5 linked regions of the Homo sapiens genome follow. The protein of the gene in region 1 purifies or fractionates together with the protein of each later gene. This does not show direct contact. Each region holds a gene or a part of one and is shown on either strand. Other genes may lie near its edges.

Region 1 (4,508 bases):
GTGAGAACCCTACGCTGCAGAGCTCGTTCTCTTGGCTTCCAGGCCTTTTTATACGCTGTCCTGCTGCTTGGACATGCCAGTCCCCACCCCTGCACCTACCGAGCTCCTGCGGCACTCAGCTGTCACCCATCTGGGACGCACACCTGTCCGAGGCTCTAGATCAAGGTGGGAGGTTAGTCCTCACTCCCTTCAGGGGCTGGACAGCGAGCTGAAGGCCCGAGCCCAGCTGCACCCAGAAAACCTGCCACTTGGAACTCACCTGACCATCCAAGCCCAGCCCCCAGTGCATGCGACAGATGAGGCAGAGATTGTGCCGTACAGAGATCAATATATATAAAGTGCCGGTACAACGCTCTGAAAAATAGTTTTGTCCCAAAATCCAGCGCCTAGGGTGCTCCGGGCCTAGCCTTTGCCAGTGAGGTCCAACGGCTGCAGGAATGGGGGCAGCGGCAGCTCGTCCAGGGCCTCGGGGAAGCGGCCTGGAGAGATGGCGGTGACCAGCACCTGCATGGCGCGCGCGAAGAGCGAGGGCGGCGCCAGGCCCGCCAGCCACTGGAACTTGTCCTCACCCAGCAGCCGCTGCCAGCGCGGCCGGTCGCCCAGCAGCTCCTGGCGGGCCGAGCCGGCGGCACCCACGGGGGTGTACAGCGCCAGGAGGTCCAGCAGCAGCAGGCGGCGCTGGCGCGGCTCCCCGGGAGCTGAGGCGGGGGCTCCGGCGGCGGAGGGAGTGGCCCCGGCGTCGCGGCCCAGCTGGCGCAGCAGCAGCTCGAGAGGCGTGAGGCCGCCGCCGTCCCGCAGACCGGGCGAGGCGCCGTGGCCCAGCAGCAGGAAGAGGCACTCGGGGCGCGCCAGCTCACAGGCCACGTGCAGCGACGTGCCACCGCCCTCCACGCGGCTGCAGCCACGCCGGTCCAGCACGCGCGCCCGCTCCTCGGCCGGGAAGTCGCGCAAGGTGCGCAGGATGCGGCGCAGAATGCCCACGCGGTTGTAGCGCACTGCCAGCGCCACGTGCGGCCCGGGAGCCGCGCAGCAGCGGAAGCCGGCACTGGGCGGTGCGAGCGCGCGCCGCGGGAACGTGGCCAGCAGGTAATGCGCGTACGCTTGGTGGTCGTGCACGAGCGCGTAGAGCAGCGCCTCAGAGGGCGAGTAGGCGGCGGCGCGCCCGCGCTCGTCCCAGTGGAAGGCCTCGCTGGCGCGCATATCCTCCAGCAGCCACACGGGTAGCAGGTCGCGCACCGCCTGGTAGAAGGCGAACGACGACTTGCGGCACTGCTTCTGCGCTCGCGAGCGCGCCGCGCCCGAGGCCTCGGGCCCGCCGTCCGCGCCACCCCCAGGCCGCCGCGCGTCCCACGGCATGCTGGCGGCGGGGCGTTCCTGGGCCTCAAGGCATGGATCCCGCGAAGGCACACCTGCGGGGAAAGGAAGAGGCCACGGTGAGGCGCGGGGAAACTGGGGAGGCCCGGGGACTCCCCTCTGCCCCTCACACAGCCCCTCCGGTCCTGGCCCACCAGGCCTGTACCTACCTCCAGCCTCGGCCAGGCCCTTCCAGTCACCCTACAGCTCCATCTCTCCGACGCCCAGAACCACCGCCTCCATCCTTGATCTAGCTGTACCTGTTCTCCCTCCTTGAAACTGACTTGCTCTCTGGCACCTCTGCTGGAAATGCCCTTGCTGCCCATGCCCTCAAATCTCCCCTCCCCTCTCCAACCCAGGGACCCACTGGAAGAGCTTCTGTTCCCACCTAAGCCAGGTTCATACGACCCCAAATAAAGAAAAGGCCAGGGAGGGGATGAGAAAGCTTGGGCCCACATCTCAAGCTGAGGCAAATCCACTCTCCAGCCCAAGCGCAACCCTGACCCTGATCTCCGACCCCAGACCACTTGGAGGCCCCTGGAGCCTCTTCCTGGGCTGTTCAGAGGCATGATCCAGACTCAGACCTACCTGGTTCCTGCACCGCGATCACCTAGTTCCGGGGATGTGGGTATATCACAGTCCCTGGCCGAGCCTCAGCTTTATCTGTAAGAAAGGGGAGGGGTGGACGACGGCTGTGCGGGCGGGGTGAGCCTGGGGCGTGGCACCAGCCCTCTATCCAAACATGTTTGCTTACACGTTAGCTCCTGGGAGGAGATAGGAGGGTGAAAACAACCTGGAGACCGGTGTGCACCGCACTGCACAGTCTGCCATCCTCTTCAGGTCCCATACCTCTCTTGATCTCCCCGACTACTAGATGAAGCGGGTACTGCCATCCCACTTTCCAGCAGGGCACAAGCTTCTCCAATTCTCCAAGGTCAGCAAGCCACGGCAGAGCCAGGCCTAGAACTCAGGTCCCCTGCGTCTCAGTTTGGGCTCATTCCAGAATTGGTGGGGACCCCCAACCCACAGGCAATCGAGCTTAGGCCCTGACCCTGCCCTCTGAGTCCCCAGCCCCGACCTGAGCCTAGGCGTCTGACCTCTGGCTCCGTCCCAACCTCCCTACTGCCTTCTTTCAAGGGTAAGCCCTTGGTCACAAGGGGCCTGGGACAGAAGGCAGGCCGCGTCCACACACACTGACTGGGTCACTATCACTGGCAGTAACTGAGTTAAAGAGAGCGGCGCGGTGCGGGTAGGCTGTGGCCCGTGGGCAACACCGTGACTGGAGCCCCTTCCCCAAGCCTGGGCCTCCGGGCCCCAGATATGCCCTGTGCCGGCACGCGTGGGGCGCCGGGCGGGTTACGTAAAGTTCGGCCTCCCCACGTCACCGGGCAGAGTCACGGCCGCGGCTCGTGAATAAGGGGGTTGGGCCATCGAAGGCAGCGCCGCGCCCGGGGCCACCCGCCACCTCCTACCCGTCCCCTCCCGGCCTGCACGGCCAGACGTCGGGCGGCGGAGGGTCGCGGGGCCGAGCGGGGCGTCCGCGCGCAGGTGGCCGGCGCAGCGAGGGCTGCACCTGCGTGCGCGTGTGCCGGAGGAGGAGGGGGCGGCGGCCGCGGGCGCGGCGCGGGGGACGGGGACTCACCATGGGGGGCGCGGGGGCCACAGGCCGGGCGTCCCCGCCCCTGCCGCGGACCGGAGCGCGCGCTGTCCCCCGCGGGCGAGCGGGCAAAGGTCCCACGACGGACGCACGGGAGGGAGCCACCGCCGCCCGCGCCCGCCGCAGCCGCGCTCTGAGCCGCCGCGGCCGGATCGCAGGGCGGCGGTGCCGTCGCCGGCGGCGGGCGGCGGGCGGCGGGCGGCGGGCGGCGCAGTGCGGCCCCGGCCAGGCAGGACAGCGGGACCGTCCGCCGCCGCCATTGGCCCGCGCCGCCGGCCCCCGCCACCACCCATTGGCCGCCGCGCTGCACCATTGTTACGTCACTGGCCGGCGGGCGGGGCGCACCGCTGGACCCGCGGAAAACTTCGGAGAAACTTGAGGGAGCGCCGGCGGGGAGAACGGAGAGGAGGGGCGGGGCCGTGGCGAAAGGGGCGGGGCGTTGATGGGCGGGGGCGGGGCTCCCGGAACCCGAGCTGCGGGCGAAGAAAGGCTCCGAGCTCCGAGCTGCCCTAGCCCGGGAGGGCGCCGCTGCTCTGCGAACTCGGGCGCGCGCGTAGGTGGCCCGCCCTCCGCCGTGCGTGACTTTCCTCGTCGCGTCCAGCTCCCCTTTTCTTTGACCTTACGTGACCTTGGGAAAAACCTCCAGGCTGCTACCCCATCTGCACATGGGAGGGCCGGGGGTAGGAGCCGCGACCCCTAAGGGCTCCACCGCCTTCTGCCCGGCCAGGGTCGTGCCTGGCGCGCCCCCGCTCCAGCTGACCCGCGCAAGGGAGGGAGGGGCGGACGGATGGGGACAGCTGTTTAGGAGCGCGCACTGCGCCCATCTCGGCCTCAACACTCATGTTTCCACTTCGTTTCACGACCACCAGCCACAGTGGACACGATGATCCCCAGTTCACCCGCCAGCAAATCAGGGCTCAGAGAGGTGGCCTCAAAGAGAGGAGCGGCCAGGAGGGAAGCCGGGGGTTTGCCCTGCGGTTCTTCCCACATCTGGGCGGGATAGATTCGATTGGGCCTCGGCCACCCCCACCGTCTCCGTCGGGGGTTCCAAGGTTTGGGGTCATGACCTAGGGGGCTTAGGAGCCTGGGTCCATCTCAACTAATTTATGGCCTCACTCGCCCCCAGCGGCTGGGAATTCTAGGCCCATTTTACAGATGTGGACGCAGATCTGGAGAGGGGCAATGACTGCTCAACCCCCCACCCATCCTCCCAGACACGACCTTCCACCTGGAATCCCCCCACACACGTTCTCAGAGGCCAGGCAGCCGGGGTCTCATGGTGAAATCCCCACATTCCATGCAGGGGCTCTTTCTGGTTCCTTCCCTAGAATGCTGTCCCTGCCCTTCCAGTACTATCTCACCAGGGAGACCCTCCCACTCCCCCACTCCGCTCCAACCAAGCAAGGCCTCTGCCTCGCCCCGGTGGGAGGGGCCTCGTCCAGAGGGCACGCCCCTGCACACACAATCAGCCCTGTCCTGGCTTCTCTGTGTGCCCCAG
Region 2 (4,076 bases), on another chromosome or scaffold:
TTAAGCTGATAAGCAACTTCAGCAAAGTCTCAGGATACAAAATCAATGGCAAAAATCACAAGCATTACTATACACCAATAACAGACTAACAGTCAAATCATGAGTGAACTCCCATTCACAACTGCTACAAAGAGAATAAAATACCTAGGAATACAATTTACAAGGGATGTGAAGTACCTCTTCAAAGAGAACTACAAACCACTGCTCAAGGAAATACGAGAGGACACAAACAAATGCAAAAACATTCCATGCTCATGGATAGGAAGAATCAATATCGTGAAAATGGCCATACTGCCCAAAGTAATTTATAGATTCAGTCCTATCCCCATCAAGCTACCATTGACTTTCTTAACAGAATTAGAAAAAAAAATACTTTAAATTTCATATGGAAACAAAAAAGAGCCTATATAGCCAGACAATCCTAAGCTAAAAGAACACAGTTGGAGGCATCAAACTGCCTGGCTTCAAACTATACTACAAGGCTACAGTAACCAAAACAGCAAGGTACTGGTACCAAAACAGATATATAGACCAATGGAACAGAACAGAAGCCTCAGAAATAACACCACACATCTACAACCATCTGATCTTTGACAAACCTGACAAAAACAAGCAATGAAGAAAGGATTCCCTATTTAATAAATGGTGTTGGGAAAACTGGCTAGCCATATGCAGAAAACTGAAACTGGACCCCCTCCTTACACCTTATACAAAAATCAAATAAAGATGGATTAAACACTTAAACGTAAGACCCAAAACCATAAAAACCCTAGAATAAAACCTAGGCAATACCATTTAGGACACAGGCATGGGCAAAGACTTCACGACTAAAACACCAAAAGCAATGGCAACAAAGCCAAAATTGACAAATGGGATCTAGTTAAACTAAAGAGCTTCTGCACAGCAAAAGAAACTATCATCAGAGTGAACAGGCAACCTACAGCATGGGAGAAAATTTCTGCAATCTATCCATCTGAGAAAGGGCTAATATCCAGAATCTACAAGGAAGTTAAACAAATTTACAAGAAAAAAACAAACAACCCCATCAAAAAGTGGGCGAAGGATACAAACAGATCCTTCTCAAAAGAAGACATTTATGCAGCCAACAAACATATGAAAAAAAGCTCATCATCACGGGTCATTAGAGAAATGCAAATCAAAACCACAATGAGATACCATTTCATGCTAGTTAGAATGGTGATCATTAAAAAGTCAGGAAACAACAGGTGCTGGAGAGGATGTGGAGAAACAGGAACACTTTTACACTGTTGGTGGGAGTGTAAATTAGTTCCACCATTGTGGAAGACAGTGTGGTGATTCCTTAAGGATCTAGAACCAGAAATACCATTTGACCCAGCAATCCCATTACTGGGTATATACCCAAAGAATTATAAATCATTCTGCTATAAAGACACATGCACACGTTTGTGTATTGCAGCACTATACACAATAGCAGAGACTTGGAACCAACCGAAATGCCCATCAGTGATAGACTGGAAATACTATCACCATGAAATACTAGGCAGCCATAAAAAAGGATGAGTTCATGTCCTTTTCAGGAACATGGATGAAGCTGGAAACCATCATTTTCAGCAAACTAACACAGGAACAGAAAACCAAACACTGCATGTTCTTACTCATAAGTGGGAGTTGAACAATGAGAACACATAGACACAGGGGAGGGGAATATCACAAACCAGGACCTGCTGGGGAGTGGGGGACTGGGGGAGGGATAGCATTAGGAGAAATACCTAATGTAGATGATGGATTGAGGGTGCAGCAAACCACCATGGCACATGTATACCTATGTAACAAACCCACATGTTCTGCACATGTATCCCAGAACTTAAAGTATAATTAAAAAAAAACAAACAACAACAACAACAAAAACACTGAAAACCAATAAGCTAAGCATTCAGAAACTTGGGGGGAAAAACAATAAATCCAAACACATGAAAAGGAAGGAAATAGTCAAGAGCAGAAATCAACAAAATAGACAACAATGACAAATTAACAAAATATAAGCTAGTTCTTTGAAAAAATTAATAAAACAACCAAACTTCTAACTGGATACTAATGGAGGTTAGTAGGGTACCAATTATTACTCTAAAAATTGATAAAGAGTAAGCATTTATCCTACTTTTCCAATTTGAACTATCTATCAGAATAACTAAATAGACCTAACGGATGGAGTAAAGCAATTCTACAAAAAAGAATCAAACTTAAAAATACAGAAGAAATGAGAGAATTCGAGAATAACCATGTTGTAACCCATAATTAAGTAACTGATTCAAGAAATAAATAAATGGTAAAACCAAAGAGTAAGTTTGTTGGACACAGTATCGGTGGACATTAACTGAACCCATTAAAAGTGAAGCAATCCTATCTTACATATCCACTGATGTGATGCAATGGAATGTACATGGCATCACTAAAGTCTTCTTGCACCACTCCCCGCAACAGGAAAAAAAAAAAAAAAAAACTAAATCTAATTGAGCCTATAGATCAAACACTGTGACTACCAAAAATACAAATGTGAGGATTAAAATACAAGACACTACAAGGAAACCACAACAAAATCCAGAATGTGAACAAATGATCCAGTTTCCTCAACAAGTCAATGGCAAGGAGAAAAAAATGGTGAGGAGGGATCTTCCAGATCAGCAGTTGACAAATGATGGCCTGTGGACAAAAGTATACCTGTTTTTGTATGCCCCTCATACTAAGAAAGGTTTTACATTTTTAAAGGGTTTTTTAGAAAGAAGAATAAGCAACAGAGACTTAGCATGGTATACAAAGCCTAAAATATTTACTACCTAACACTTTACAGAAAAAAATGTGTCAACCCTTATTCTAGATTACAAGACATTTAGAAAAGCTTGAGATGTAGGAACCAAATAGGAGTACAACTTGTTTAGATACCAATTAGAACAACTGCACTATATATTTTTACCCAATAGGGAAAATTTTTATTATGGAGTAGTTATTAGATGATATTAACCAATTATTGTTAATTTTGTAATATTATAGTTTTGTATGGAAGTGATTTTTTTTTTATTTCTATCTTTTATAGAGACATGGTCTTGCACTGTCACCCAGGCTGGAGTGTCGGGGCACAATCATATTTCACTGTAGCCTTGAACTCTTGGCTCCAGGAATCCTCCCACCTCAGCCTCCCGAGTTAGCTAGGACCATAGGCTCGCTACTTTTTTTTCTTTTTTTGGTACAGACAGGGTCTTTCTGGCCAGGTGCATAATTTCAGCAATTTGGGAGGCCGAGGTGGGCAGATCACTTGAGGTCAGGAGTTTGAGACCAGCCTGGCCAACATGGCAAAACCCCATGTTGGGAGTCTCCACTAAAAACACAAAAATTAGCCAGGCATGATGGTGGATGCCTGTAATCCCAGCTACCTGGGAGGATGAGGCACAAGAATTCCTTGAACTGAAGAAGTGGAGATTGCAATGAGCCAAGATCACGCCACTGCACTCCAGCCTAGGTGACAAAGTGAGACTCCATCTCAAAAAAAAGAAAGAGAGAGAGACAGTGTTTTTCTATGTTGCCCAGGTTCATCTCCAACTCCTGGCCTCAAGTGATCCTCCCACCTCCACCTCCCAGAGAGCAAGAATTACAGGCATGGGCCACCTCACCCACTCTATAAGACATTTCTTAAAAAGATAAGGCAAAAAAAAAAATATGGCAAAATATGGATAGTTGTTAAAGTTGAGTAATGGGTGCTTGCAAGTTTTTTACACTCTCTTATGTATGCTTGGAAATTTTCAATATCAAAAGTTAATTAAAAAGACAAACCTCTAGCAAGACAGATCAAGGATACAAATATACAAAACACAGAATGAAAAAAGTAACCATAGCTATACTGAAATAAAAAATAAGACTATGAACAACTATATATTAATACATGGAAAATCTATATAAAATAACTTTTAAAAAATTTTTTTGAGACAGAGTCTCGCTCTGTCATCCCAGGCTGGAATGTAGTAGCATGATCAGAGCTTACTGCAGCCTCAACCTCTTAGGCACAAGTAAGTGATCCTCCCACCTCAGCCTCCTGGGTAGCT
Region 3 (4,076 bases), on another chromosome or scaffold:
CTTCATTCACCTAATTTCCAGACTAGTCAAGCAAAGACATCAGCTCATTGTATTTAGTCATGAGGAAATTTATTTGTAAACTTCAAATAGTAGCACACTGCTCCCAAAAGCCCCTGAACTATGAGAAATTGCTTTCTGATTCAGAAATGTGAAGTCCTTGGAATTTAGAACTGCTTCCCTTTTTTTTCTTTCTTAATAACCCTTGCAAGAGAAATTAGCTCTTAATAGAAAATATATGTTAAAGTCTAAGAATAATTTTGGAATTATCTTAAAGTGAAAATTTAGAAAGTTCAATTTGCATCCAGACTTTTATTATCTACCTTGATTCTCACATGATTATTTTCTCTCTTAGAAAACAACAGTTTTGTTGGCATGTGAAGCTCCAGTTTCCTCAAAGTCAAGCTGAGTACATAGAAAAAAGGTATCACTGCTATCTTTCAATCACTGATTTGTTTTAATTTGAAGGCTGTGTATTTAAAATAAACTGTTAACTTAATGTCAGTAGTAGAATGGATAACTAAATTGTGGTGTATTTATACAATGAAATGCTAAACATCACTAAAAATGAACTACAGCTATGCACATCAACATGGATGAATCTCAGAAATAATATAAGAAAAGCAAGTTAAGGAAGAATGTAGAGAACATGATTGTAAATATGGGGGAAAAAAGCCAGAAAACTAAATAGTGTACTTTTGGGAATACCTACAAAGGTGATAGAACTAACTCTAAGGGAAATTATTAACATAGAAATCCTGATGATGGTTTCTTTAGCAGCAAAGCAAGTATTGAGGAGAGGGATCCGAGGAGAATTAGACGGCTGAAAGTTTCCTATTTCTTCAGCTGGGTGGTTGTTAAGGAAGTGAAAAATGACCCAAAATTCTACCATGCAAAGATTACTACTATTAACATTATAGTGTATCACTCAGAAAATACATTATTTTAGAAGTATATATGTGTACTCATTGGAATTAATTTGCATAAAGTTTTTGTGTTACTGTTTCATATTAAAACTTGTTCTTTTCTTTTTCTTTATTTTTGGAGGGGAGTGGGGGCAGGATCTTGCTCTGTTGCCCACGCTGGAGTGCAGTGGTGCGGACCTCCGCTCACTGCAGCTTCAACCTCCTGGGCTCAGGTGATCCTCCTACCTCAGCCTCCAAGTAGGTGGGACTAAAGGCTCAGGCCATCACGCCCAGCTAATCTTGTTTAGTTTTGTAGAGGCAAGGCCTCACTATGTTGCCCAGGCAGGTCTCAAACTCCTGGCCTCAAGCAATCCTCCCCTCTCTGCCTCCCAAAATGTCGGAATTACAAGTGTGAGCCACCGCATCCAGCCTATAAACATTTTCAAGTGTCATTTAAACATTTTAATGTTGGCCAGATGCAGCGGCTCACACCTATAATCCCAGCACTTTGGGAGGTCGAGGCGGATGGATTGCCTTTGGCCAGGAGTTAGAGACCAGCTTGGCCAACATGGTGAAACCCCGTCTCTACTAAAAATACAAAAATTAGCTGGGGGAAGTGGCGCACCCCTGTAATCACAGCTACTTGGGAAGCTGAGGCATGAGAATAGCTTAAATGCAGGAGGCGGAGGTTGCAGTGAGCCAAGATCATGCCACTGCACTCCAGCCTGGGCGACAGAGCAAGACTCTGTCTCAACAACAACAACAAAAAAATTAAAAAAAAAAAAAAAAAACATTTTAATGTTTGTGAACTATTTCATTCCTTGATTTAGGAAAATTTTAAAGTTGCTCTTTAAGTAGTATATTTAGCATATTCCTATATTATACATAAATATCCTCTCTTTGTAGTTGTCAAAGGGATTTTAGTGAAGAACTTTGTTATTTGGAGTTGCATACAAGGAAAAGACTTATTTTACATCTAGGGGTATGTAGCCAATAGTATATATGAATATGTATAAATGGTTGAGGAAAGTTACTGTTTTAAAACAGTGTCTTAATTTTGTTTATACAGCTTTATAGATAAGTTTAAAACAGCGTGCATATATGGAAGAAAGTTGGAAAACTTAAAATGTTTTGTTTCCAAGGAAATTACTATCAATTTTTTAACTTGGTCTTATAAATTAGAATGAGTAAATTTGAACATGCACTGAAATCTGAAACCTTTTTTCAGATTTATTATTTCTGCTAGTTTCAAATATATTTTATCCTGACCTCGTCTTTTCATGTTTGAGTACAGGTGTGTGTTAAGAGGCTTCATATTTTTATAATTGATTTATACAGAACTTCTCAAAATGTTGTTTTTTAAGACCTTAAGTGTGTCCAAGAACTCTTTTTGAGCTTTTTCCTAAGTAATTTTTGCTTAAAATGATATTTTATTTTGCCAAGAGTAATATAAAAGGTCTTTGTTCAGTTATTTAAACCAAAAAAGCCACAATATTTAATAATTCAAAATTAACACCTTTAGTAGAAAATTATAAATACTAATATAGCTTGTTTTTTTTTCTTTGTTGTAAAGAGTACCAGATGATAAAACTATTAATGAAATCCTAAAACCTTACATTGATCCTGAAAAGTCTGATCCTGTAATTCGTCAAAGGTATGCTTCAAAAATATTGTAACTTTCTGAAATAATTAAAAATGTTGATGTACTTATTAGGGTCATCCATGACTATTAGAATGTGATGTGTAGTACAATTTACTTTCTATCACATTTTCTTGGTGTTTACTGAAGGTCTGTCTGTAGAAATAGCTGACATTCATTGTTTCCTATGTTCCAGACACTCTTCAAAGCAGACAGTAATAAATGTGTTAATTCATTTAATCCTCACAATAACTCTGAAAAGTAGATTATTATTATACCCATTTTACAGATGGAGAAACTGAGCCTTGAAGTGGTTAAGTAATATCCTATAGCTAGTAAACAGGGAAGCTAGGATTCACACCCAGGCAGTCTGGAGTCAAAGTCTTTACTCTTAACCCTTAAACTAAACTACCTTTGAGGTTGAACGAAAAACTCTGAAAATGAAAAGTTTCCAAGTAACTTAAAGACAGGAAATCCTGTTTCAGCCAAGTCTTCTTAGAACTAAGTAAAGTACACTCTGCCTCCTGTCCAGAAATACAGCATGGACAAAAGTGGTTAACATAACATAGTGGAAAGATTCAGTCATGGATATCTGGGTTAAAATAGCTGTTTCTGTCCCTTATTAGCTGTGTGATTAAGAGCAAGTTACTTAATTTCCAGGCCTTATTTTTTCTCATCAGTGAAATAAGAATGATAACACTTCCTAGATAGGGTTGTTACAAAGCTTAAAAGAAATAGCATATATGAAATTCCTAGTACAGGACCTAGCATATAGTAGACACTACTCGAAAACGGAGATTGTTATTAGAGTGTGAGTTATTAGTGCTCCTGGGCAGAAACCCGGTTGACTTTATTTTCACCAGATGGTACTTGCTTGGGATGTGAATGAGTGCTTGGTTTGGTTCCAGAATAACCTGGTATTTAAAATTTAGACTGGGTGGATTCTAAAATGTCTAATCCAGTTCTAATTGAATCTCATTCTTTTGCTTTTGATAAAAGGTCATGCCCAGACTGAACCAGACCCATGTCACATATCAAGCAGTCTTTAAAATAGCTATGATAGTTGAGTTTCTTTCCTTATAACTGGTAACCTAGTTATTATCATTAGTCATATATTTGCCAGTAAGACAAAATGTCACTGAATAGGATACATTTTTGTAAAATTATATAGCCAGATTAATTTATTGAAACAGGTGTTTTAAAATTTAAGATGTTTAATTGAACAAAGGAAAAAAATTATTTTCTTTTCAGATTTCTGGTTAGAAAACATCTTTATCTCCTTTTCTATGCTTAAATACATGAACTTTTAAGTATTATTAGGTACAAATGCTTAGTCTCCATAAGACTATCTTGAAATATATTAAAAATCAGCTTTTCCTTCAATATGATGTTTTTATTTCAGGTTGAAAGCCTACATTCGCTCTCAGACTGGGGTTCAGATTTTAATGAAGATTGAATATATGCAGCAAAATTTAGTAAGGTAAAATTGCTCCCCTCCCCATTTCTTTAAATATTTTTTAGTTCTGTAATATAAT
Region 4 (4,076 bases), on another chromosome or scaffold:
TAAAGAATGGAGGAGACAGAAATCATATTTAGGTCCTCTTATTCCACATTGTGTGCTTTTTATGACTCAGTGTGGAATGCATCATTAATTTTCTTTGTAGCTGATAAAATCAGCATACTATTTTTATTTTTTTTTAACCAAGGTGAGGATACTAAGTACATAGATACATAATGAGAATAGTAATGATAAGTGTTCATATGAAACTTTTCAGTTTTGCGTTTTGTGAAAATATATCTTTTTTTTTTTTTTTTTTTTTGAGACGGAGTCTTGCCCTGTTGCCCAGGCTGGAGTGCAGTGGCGCGATCTTGGCTCACTGCAACCTCCGCCTTCCAGGTTCAAACTATTCTCGTGCTTCAGCCTCCCAAGCAGCTGGGATTACAGGCGTGAGCCACTGCACCGGGCCAAAAATATATCTCTAATTGAAACCTTTTCAGAAATGAGAAGCCACACAAGTGATCAATTAAGGACCATTTTATATTAAGCTAAAATGGAATATCACTCAGTTGAGCAAACTAATATGTACATTGAACTTTGAGCCTATGAAATATAGATTAATGTAAATTGAAAGTATAGCTCCCATATAGTTCTCGATGTAAACTTTTTGGCTTCAATTTATATTATTTTATCTTAAATACAATGGAATTATTTAGAAAACTTGCTAGTCATATTTATGTATGTATTTTTTTTTTTTTTGCATTTTACATACAGGGATGAGCTGTATGTAACGTCTAGCTAGTTTTTTTTTTTTTATTTTATTTTATTTTTTTTAATGTTAGTTTTTTTCCCCTTCTGTTGTCCTTGCTCCTGTTAGGACTTCCTGCTTCTAATGTGACTCCTGCTATACTTGGCAAAAAATTTGTCATAGTGTACATGAAAGTTACTTGTTTAATATTCACTCCTCACTCTCCCTCTATCCCTTCTTTTTTTTTCTTTTTTTTTTTCTTTTCCCCTAACAGTAAACTTCATATATCGAAATTAGAGCATGGGATGTTTGTTTACCTGAGAATTTGTTTTAATTAATCCGAGTTTTCACAACATTAGAAGATAATGAAATATTTATCAGTGAATTTTTATCAAACACACTTTTAAACTTTTCTTGATACCAGGAGCAATTAGGATTATAATTCTGAGCATTTATTATTACAGAAAACTAAAGGTAAGAAATGTGGGAAAATGTGCTGAATACATTCCAGTGTTGTGGCATACTTTGGAGGTTGTTTTTGCATGGAAACCAGTTATCAACGTGTTGTCACTTGTCCTGTGTTTTAAAAAATAATAAACAGTGTAGCTATTTAAAGCTATTAGTTGTTTGAGTTGTCTGTAAATATGAATCATTAAGTGACTATTAAATAAAAATAGTTTCTATTTGTGTTGTTACTTCCATCCAGATTTGTTGCTTTTTCAATATTAACACTGATTCTCAGAGTTAACAGATCTGATATAAATGGGAAAAGGCAAAAAATGCAGCACTTTGAGAAGTTCCAGGTTAATAGTTGTTAAGTAAAAGGTTTTGTAGTTGAAATAAATTTGGAGGATATTTGCCTAAAGAAAGTTAATAGGTTTCTTCTCTGGATGACTTAACATAGTTAGTTTTTGATAGGTGATTTATTTTCAAAGAAGATGATAGAATTTACAGCATATTGCAGAGTCATTTAACCATGGAGGTGAATACACTTTCTTGTATTTCACTTAGGGAAATCCTGGAGTGATGAGTTACGTATCAAGAAAGGCTCCCTGAACATCCAGGGGTCCTTTTGAACACACACATGCACATACATCATACATCCACGCTCACACACAGTTGTCTTGCCCATAAGTGCTTAGTAAAATATTATGACTTGGTTTTGTTGATTAATATATTTGTAATAGAAATACTCTTGGGGCACATTAATCTTTAAGCTATATAAGCTATTTCTTCAATTATTAATGACACTGCAAGAGCTACTAACCAAAGCAAGAAGACCATAGGTCCACTGGCATTCAGAGGTGTCAAGAGGTAGGAAAGGGATTTTATAACGGGAGTGGAAGGACATCAGTATCTAAAATGAGTTTGGCTTGCCACTCTACACACAGCCTTACTTGGCATCTTTTGACAAACCAAGAGGAATATTGATAAACATTCTTAAAGAATTTTTTCTTTTTAAATATTATTTTAATTGACAGTCATTTTTATGCATTTATGGGGTACAGGGTGATATTTTGAAATGTGTGTACAATGTGGAATGATTAAGTGCAGCTGAATAACATATCACCTTGATTATTTTCTATGGTGAGACAATTGAAATTTAGTTATTTAAAAAATAAAATACATGATTGTTGACAGTTGTTTAATTGATCTAAAAATTTCTTCCTTCTATCTATCTGAAACTTTGTACTCTGAGCAGTATATCCCCATTGCTCCCTCTTCTCCAGGCTCTGGTATCTGTCATTCTGCTGTCTACTTCTGTGAGTTTGACTTCTTAAATTTCACATATAAGTGAGATCGTGTGGTATTTGTCTTCCCATGCTTGGCTTTTTTCAGTTAGCATGATGTTCTCCATGTTCGTTCATGTTGTAGCAAGTGACAGAATTTCCTTCTCTTTTAAGCCCAATTAGTATTCCATTGTATCTACCACCTTTTCTTCATCTGTTTATCCATTGATGGACACTTAGGTTGATTCTTTGTCTTGGATTTTGTGACTAATGCTGCTGTGAACCTGGGAGTGCAGATATCCTTTCAACATATTGAGTTCCGTTTTTTGGAAATATACCCAGGAGTGAGATTGTATGGTAGTTTTATTTTTAGGTTTTTGAGGAACTTACATACCATTTTTCATAATGTTTGTATTAATTTGCATTTCTACCTACAGTGTACAAGAATTCCCTTTTCTTCACATTCATGGCATCACTTACTCTCATTTTTTTGATTATAGCCATTCTAACAGGTGTGAGGTGATATCTCATTGTGGTTTTAATTTGCATTTTCCTAATGGTTAGTGATGCTGAGCAGTTTTTCATGTATTTGTTGGCCAGATTTATGTCTTCCTTTGAGACATGTCTATTCAAGCCCTTTGCCCATTTTAAAAATGGTTATTTTCTTGAAATTGTGTTGAGTTCCTTTTATATTTAGTCTGTTAACCACTTATCACATGTATGGTTTACACTTTCTCCCAAGTTGTGGAGTGGAAAAGTGTATCCCAGCTCTGGTAGATATACCTCTTTCTGTTTTTGTTATCTCTGGGCCCCCAGCAGATTGGGTGGTGCCTGCCCACATGGAAGGCAGACCTCCAGGTAGTCTACTCAGACTCACATGCTAATCTCAGTCTCCTCTGGAAACATCCTCACAGACACATCCAAAGGAATGCTTTACCAGGTTTTTAGGTATTCCTTAATATAGTCAAGTTGACATCTAAAATTATCCACCACAATGACTTTACAGCTTTCCCTGAATGAGGTTCTCAGATTATGGCTTTTTAAACTGTGCTTTGAAATTTTGTGGTTTCATAGACCATGAAGTGCCTCCTCAATTGATTGTAATCTGGAATTGACTTTCTATTTCAGAGTCAGGTTTAATTTTGGTGTCACAAAGCCTTAAATATGTGTAAGGAGAGGAAACGTTGAAGCAAGCAGATAGCTCTTAAACTGTTTAACGTTTTAAAAGTATTTGGAATTAAATGAATAAATAGGCTGGAGTGATAGTGATAAATACTGTGTCTATCAACAAATTATACATATGGCAACACACAAACCTGTATGTTAAGCACTATAAGGGATGAGTCTCAACTTTATCACTTATTTATGATGGGATTTTGGGGAACTAGTTTGAACTTTCTAAGCTTTTAATTTCCTTCTGTGTAAAATTGGGGTAATAGCACCTTTCTTGCTGTTCTTACATTGTTATGAAGATCATATAAGATGATGGAGGGTATAACTTTGTAAATTGCCAGTCATTATAGAAATAGTGGTAGTACATCGGGTTTTTTTTTTTTTCTGTATATTCCTTGTACTAATGAATGTAAATCCTAGGCTCCATGTAGTTTTATTGCTCACTATTTTCTTGGTGGATAGGTGGGTGGGTCCTGAGGGGAAATTAGGAG
Region 5 (4,076 bases), on another chromosome or scaffold:
AATCTCCCAGGCTGGGGGCTGCAGAGACCCTGAGTGGCTACATGGCCGTGGGGTGGTCCCTGTGCTGCCCCAAAGTCCATGGGCCCTTGTAATAAACCCTTATCAACAACGGTCACCTGAGTCTCAATTCAATGCCCCCTCCTCACAGAATTCTCCCTTACCACTCTAAAATGCCTAAATAAGGCCAGGCCTGGTGGCTCATGCCCGTAATCCCAGCACTTAGGGAGGCCGAGGTGGGCAGATGACCTGAGGTCAGGAGTTCAAGGCCAGCCTTTGTTTTTTCTGAGTCGGAGTCTCAATCTGTCTCCCAGGCTGGAGTGCAGTGGTGCGATCTCAGCCCACTGCAGCCTCCGTCTCCCGGGTTCAAGTGATTCTCCTGCCTCAGCCTCCAGAGTATCTGGGATTACAGGCGCCCGCCACCATGGCTGGCTAATTTTTGTATTTTTAGTAGAGACGGGGCTTTGCTATGTTGGTCAGGCTGGTCTCGAACTCCTGACCTCAAAATCACAGCTCACTGCAACCTTTCCCTCCTGGGTTCAAGTGATTCTCCTGCCTCAGCCTCTGGAGTAGCTGGGATTACAGGCACCTGCCACCACGCCTGGCTAATTTTTGTATTTTTAGTAGAAACGGGGTTTCAAATCTTGGCCAGGCTGGTCTCAAACTCCTGACCTTATGATCCACCTGCCTGGGCCACCCAAAGTGCTGGGATTACAGGCGTGAGCCACCGCTCCCGGCCAAAATCACCTTCTTTTTCAGCTTTCCCTCCACAGCGCTTCCCAGCGTCTGGAATTCCTGTGTTGATGTCCATTCACTGTTGCACTGTGTATCCTCCTTCCTAAGAGCAGAGACCTGGCCTCCCTCATGCTCCACAAAAACCCTAGTGCTTAGAACAGTATCTGGAACACAGCAAATGCCCAGTATATTTTCACTGAATTACTAAACCTCAAAGAGCCTGGAGCCTCAGTCCTCCTGCCAGGTAGGATGGGGGATCATGGGACCTTTTGCAGTTGCCTGCCTAGGGGACGTGGAGGCAAGGAAGGCGAGACAGCCTCCACCCATCCCTGTGCCTGCTCCACAGCCTGTCCACTCCCTTCCCCACCTCCCAGCCTCAGGCCCAGCCTGCTGGACAACCAAGGGTGACCTGGATCTCAGGCTGCTCCAGCAAGAACCAGCGCAGCGGGTACGTGCGGGCCTGCATCATTTCCACGGGCACCGTGAACTGCTCGTCCAGGTGGAAGGAGTCTCTCTGGGTAAGGCTCGGGTCAAACTTGTTCCTCCAGAAACCTGAAACCCAGCAGAGGGCAGGGGTCACGTCGACGGGGACCAGCTTGGGGCAGAGGGCAGGGGTCACGTCGATGGGGACCAGCTTGGGCTCTGCACCCCCAGCCCGTTGCCTGTCCCACCCAGAATCCATTCAAGGATGAGACAGCGGTGGAGGCCAAGACCCCAGGGAATGCTAGCTGGCATCCAATTGATCTAAGGTCTCTTTCCCGTAGCATTTTTGAAATCTGGGCTTGTGTTTTCCCCAACCCCTGCAATTCTCCTAGGAACCTCCTCCTGGATCTTTTTTTTTTTTTTTAGACGGAGTCTCGCTCTGTCGCCCAGGCTGGAGTGCAGTGGCACGACCTCCGCTCACTGCAAGCTCCACCGCCTCCCGGGCTCACGCCATTCTCCTGCCTCAGCCTCCCGAGTAGCTGGGACTACAGGTGCCCGCCACTACGCCCAGCTAATTTTTTTGTATTTTTAGCAGAGACGGGGGTTTCACCGTGTTAGCCAGGATGGTCTCCATCTCCTGACCTCATGATCTGCCCGCCTCGGCCTCCCAAAGTGTTGGGATTACAGGCGTGAGCCACCGCGCCCAGCCCCTCCTGGATCTTTTCAGACCATTTGTTCCCAGGGTATTCACTCTAGAACAACTCATCTGGCTCCTGGGCACCCATCCCCACCACACCCAGACAGCCTCCTGCCTCATGGCCCAGACTGAGGAAGAAAGGAGACCCTCAGAACAAAGCCTGCATGGCCGGGCGCGGTGGCTCACGCCTGTAATCCCAGCACTTTGGGAGGCCGAGGTGGGTGGATCACCTGAGGTCAGGAGTTCAAGGCCAGCCTGGCCAACATGGTGAAACCCTGTCTCTACTAAAATACAAAAATTAGCTGGGTGTGGTGGCAGATGCCTGTAATCCCAGCTACTGGGGAGGCTGAGCCAGGAGAATCGCTTCAATCCGGGAGGCGGAGGTTGCAGGGAGCCGAGATCGCGCCACTGCGCTCCACCCTGGGTGACAGAGCGAGACTTGTCTCAAAAAACAAAAAGGCCTGCACGTCCCAGCTCAGCCTACAGGGTGGGGGATCTGAGAGGAGGAGGAGCGCACCCTGGAAGTGGATGGCGTTGAGGAGAAGCAACACGGTGTCTTCCGGCAGCCCAGAGAGGAATTCCTGAATCTTCCCCTCCGTGGCCTCCTTCACCCATTGGTTGATGTTTGCCAGGTCATCTTCCTGCTTTCCCGTCAGGCTCACGGGCTTTGCCCCAAATAGCTGTTCGGATTGTTCCAGGAAATCTTCTTTGATGGGAAATCCTGCACGGAGGCAGCACAAGCTGTTCCCAGGGCTCCAGGCTCCACAGCCAGACACGCCCCTACTCGCTACCAGAGGCCCAGCCCCTTGCTCTCACCCTCCTCCACCCAGGGCAGGACTGAGGGAGCTCCCTGCCATCAGCGCCTACCTTTCTGCAGGTACATCCTGGCAGCCAGTCGGAACGCGCCGGGGCCCAGGTCCTGGCAGAGGCGGCTCAGCAGATGGGGGAGGCAGGGCCCTGAGCCTGCGTGCAGCACCTGTTGCAGCCTCTGCAACGTGTGGTTCTGAGCACCTGGAGGGCACCGCACAGGCTGAGGCCCGGCTGCGGGTCCTTTCTCACCCCCACTGCCCACTCCAGTCCCTCCTGGATACCCGTGACGAGGACGTCCACGGGACCACACGCCATCCTTCCACAGCCACGGATCTGTTCTGCGTGGCTCTCACCCCTGTGGCTGACAGGCTGGGTGACCTCACCCCCCACAAGTTACCTTCCCTCTCTGGGCTTCCGTTTCCCACAGTGAGACCCTCCAGCACAGTGGGAAAGAGTGTAGCTAGCAAACTCTTGCATAAGAATCACCAGGAGGGGCCGGGCGCGGTGGCTCACGCCTGTAATCCCAGCACTTTGGGAGGCTGAGGCAGGTTGATCACCTTAGGTCGAGAGTTCGAGACCACCCTGGCCAACATGGTGAAACCCCGTCTCTACTAAAAATACAAAAATCAGCTGTGCATGGTGGCTGGTGCCTGTGATCCCAGCTATTTGGGAGGCTGAGGCAGGAGAATTGCTTGAACCTGGGAGACAGAGGTTGCAGTGAGCTGAGATCACACCACTGCACTCTAGCCTGGGTGACAGAGCAAGACTCTGTCTCAAAAAAAAAAAAAAAATCACCAGGAGGACTTGTAAATAAGCAGATTCCCCGGCCCAGTCCCTGAGATCTGATTCACATAGACAGATGGGTGGGGGCCCAGGAATCTGCATTTGTTGTTGTTGTTGTTTGAGACGGAATCTTGCTCTGTCACCCAGGCTGGAGTGCAGTGGCGCCATCTCGGCTCACTGTAACCTCCAACTCCCAGGTTCAAACAGTTCTCTGCCTCAGCCTCCTGAGTAGCTGGAATTACAGGTGCGCACCACCACGCACAGCTAAATTTTTTGTATTTTTAGTAGAGAGAGTTTCACCATGTTGGCCAGGCTGGTCTTGAACTCCTGACCTCGTGATCCACCCGCCTCAGCCTCCCAAAGTGTTGGGATTACAGGCGTGAGCCACCGCCCCGGCCTAGGAATCTGCATTTTTACCAAACAGCCACGTGACCCTGGTGGAGGAACCGCCCGCGGAGAACCATTGGAGTACTGAGTTCCTACTGGCCTCCCAGCTCTCTTGGTCTGGACAAGTGGTGCCAGGGTACCTAGTGCCAGGTGAGACAGCGCCAGGGCCACACTCAGGGGTGACAGGATGAGGTTGGGGCAGGTGGACGTTTGAGCCACCAGGGAGAACAGGTCGGCAGTGAAG

What was found.
Region 2: the proteins of ANKRD9 (region 1) and SNX14 purify together in Homo sapiens (affinity purification with mass spectrometry; one large-scale study listed by BioGRID and IntAct). This does not show direct contact.
Region 3: the proteins of ANKRD9 (region 1) and ZNHIT6 purify together in Homo sapiens (affinity purification with mass spectrometry; one large-scale study listed by BioGRID and IntAct). This does not show direct contact.
Region 4: the proteins of ANKRD9 (region 1) and SNX13 purify together in Homo sapiens (affinity purification with mass spectrometry; one large-scale study listed by BioGRID and IntAct). This does not show direct contact.
Region 5: the proteins of ANKRD9 (region 1) and SERPINF2 purify together in Homo sapiens (affinity purification with mass spectrometry; one large-scale study listed by BioGRID and IntAct). This does not show direct contact.

What each region holds. Positions count from the first base shown.
Region 1 is NC_000014.9:102,506,534-102,511,041, forward strand, and holds the start of ANKRD9 (ankyrin repeat domain-containing protein 9), read right to left. Parts: upstream 3,244-4,508; 5' UTR 2,996-3,243; intron 2,320-2,995; exon of another isoform or gene 2,314-2,319; 5' UTR 2,108-2,313; intron 2,017-2,107; 5' UTR 1,942-2,016; intron 1,410-1,941; 5' UTR 1,357-1,409; coding exon 403-1,356; 3' UTR 1-402.
Region 2 is NC_000006.12:85,583,527-85,587,602, forward strand, and holds part of SNX14 (sorting nexin-14), read right to left. Parts: intron 1-4,076. UniProt on the Homo sapiens protein: Plays a role in maintaining normal neuronal excitability and synaptic transmission. May be involved in several stages of intracellular trafficking. Required for autophagosome clearance, possibly by mediating the fusion of lysosomes with autophagosomes.
Region 3 is NC_000001.11:85,677,181-85,681,256, reverse strand, and holds part of ZNHIT6 (box C/D snoRNA protein 1), read left to right. Parts: intron 1-352; coding exon 353-421; intron 422-1,808; exon of another isoform or gene 1,809-1,884; intron 1,885-2,475; coding exon 2,476-2,556; intron 2,557-3,943; coding exon 3,944-4,021; intron 4,022-4,076. UniProt on the Homo sapiens protein: Required for box C/D snoRNAs accumulation involved in snoRNA processing, snoRNA transport to the nucleolus and ribosome biogenesis.
Region 4 is NC_000007.14:17,933,694-17,937,769, reverse strand, and holds part of SNX13 (sorting nexin-13), read left to right. Parts: intron 1-4,076. UniProt on the Homo sapiens protein: May be involved in several stages of intracellular trafficking. May play a role in endosome homeostasis. Acts as a GAP for Galphas.
Region 5 is NC_000017.11:1,745,806-1,749,881, reverse strand, and holds part of SERPINF2 (alpha-2-antiplasmin isoform a precursor), read right to left. Parts: coding exon 3,973-4,076; intron 2,864-3,972; coding exon 2,720-2,863; intron 2,574-2,719; coding exon 2,370-2,573; intron 1,285-2,369; coding exon 1,142-1,284; intron 1-1,141.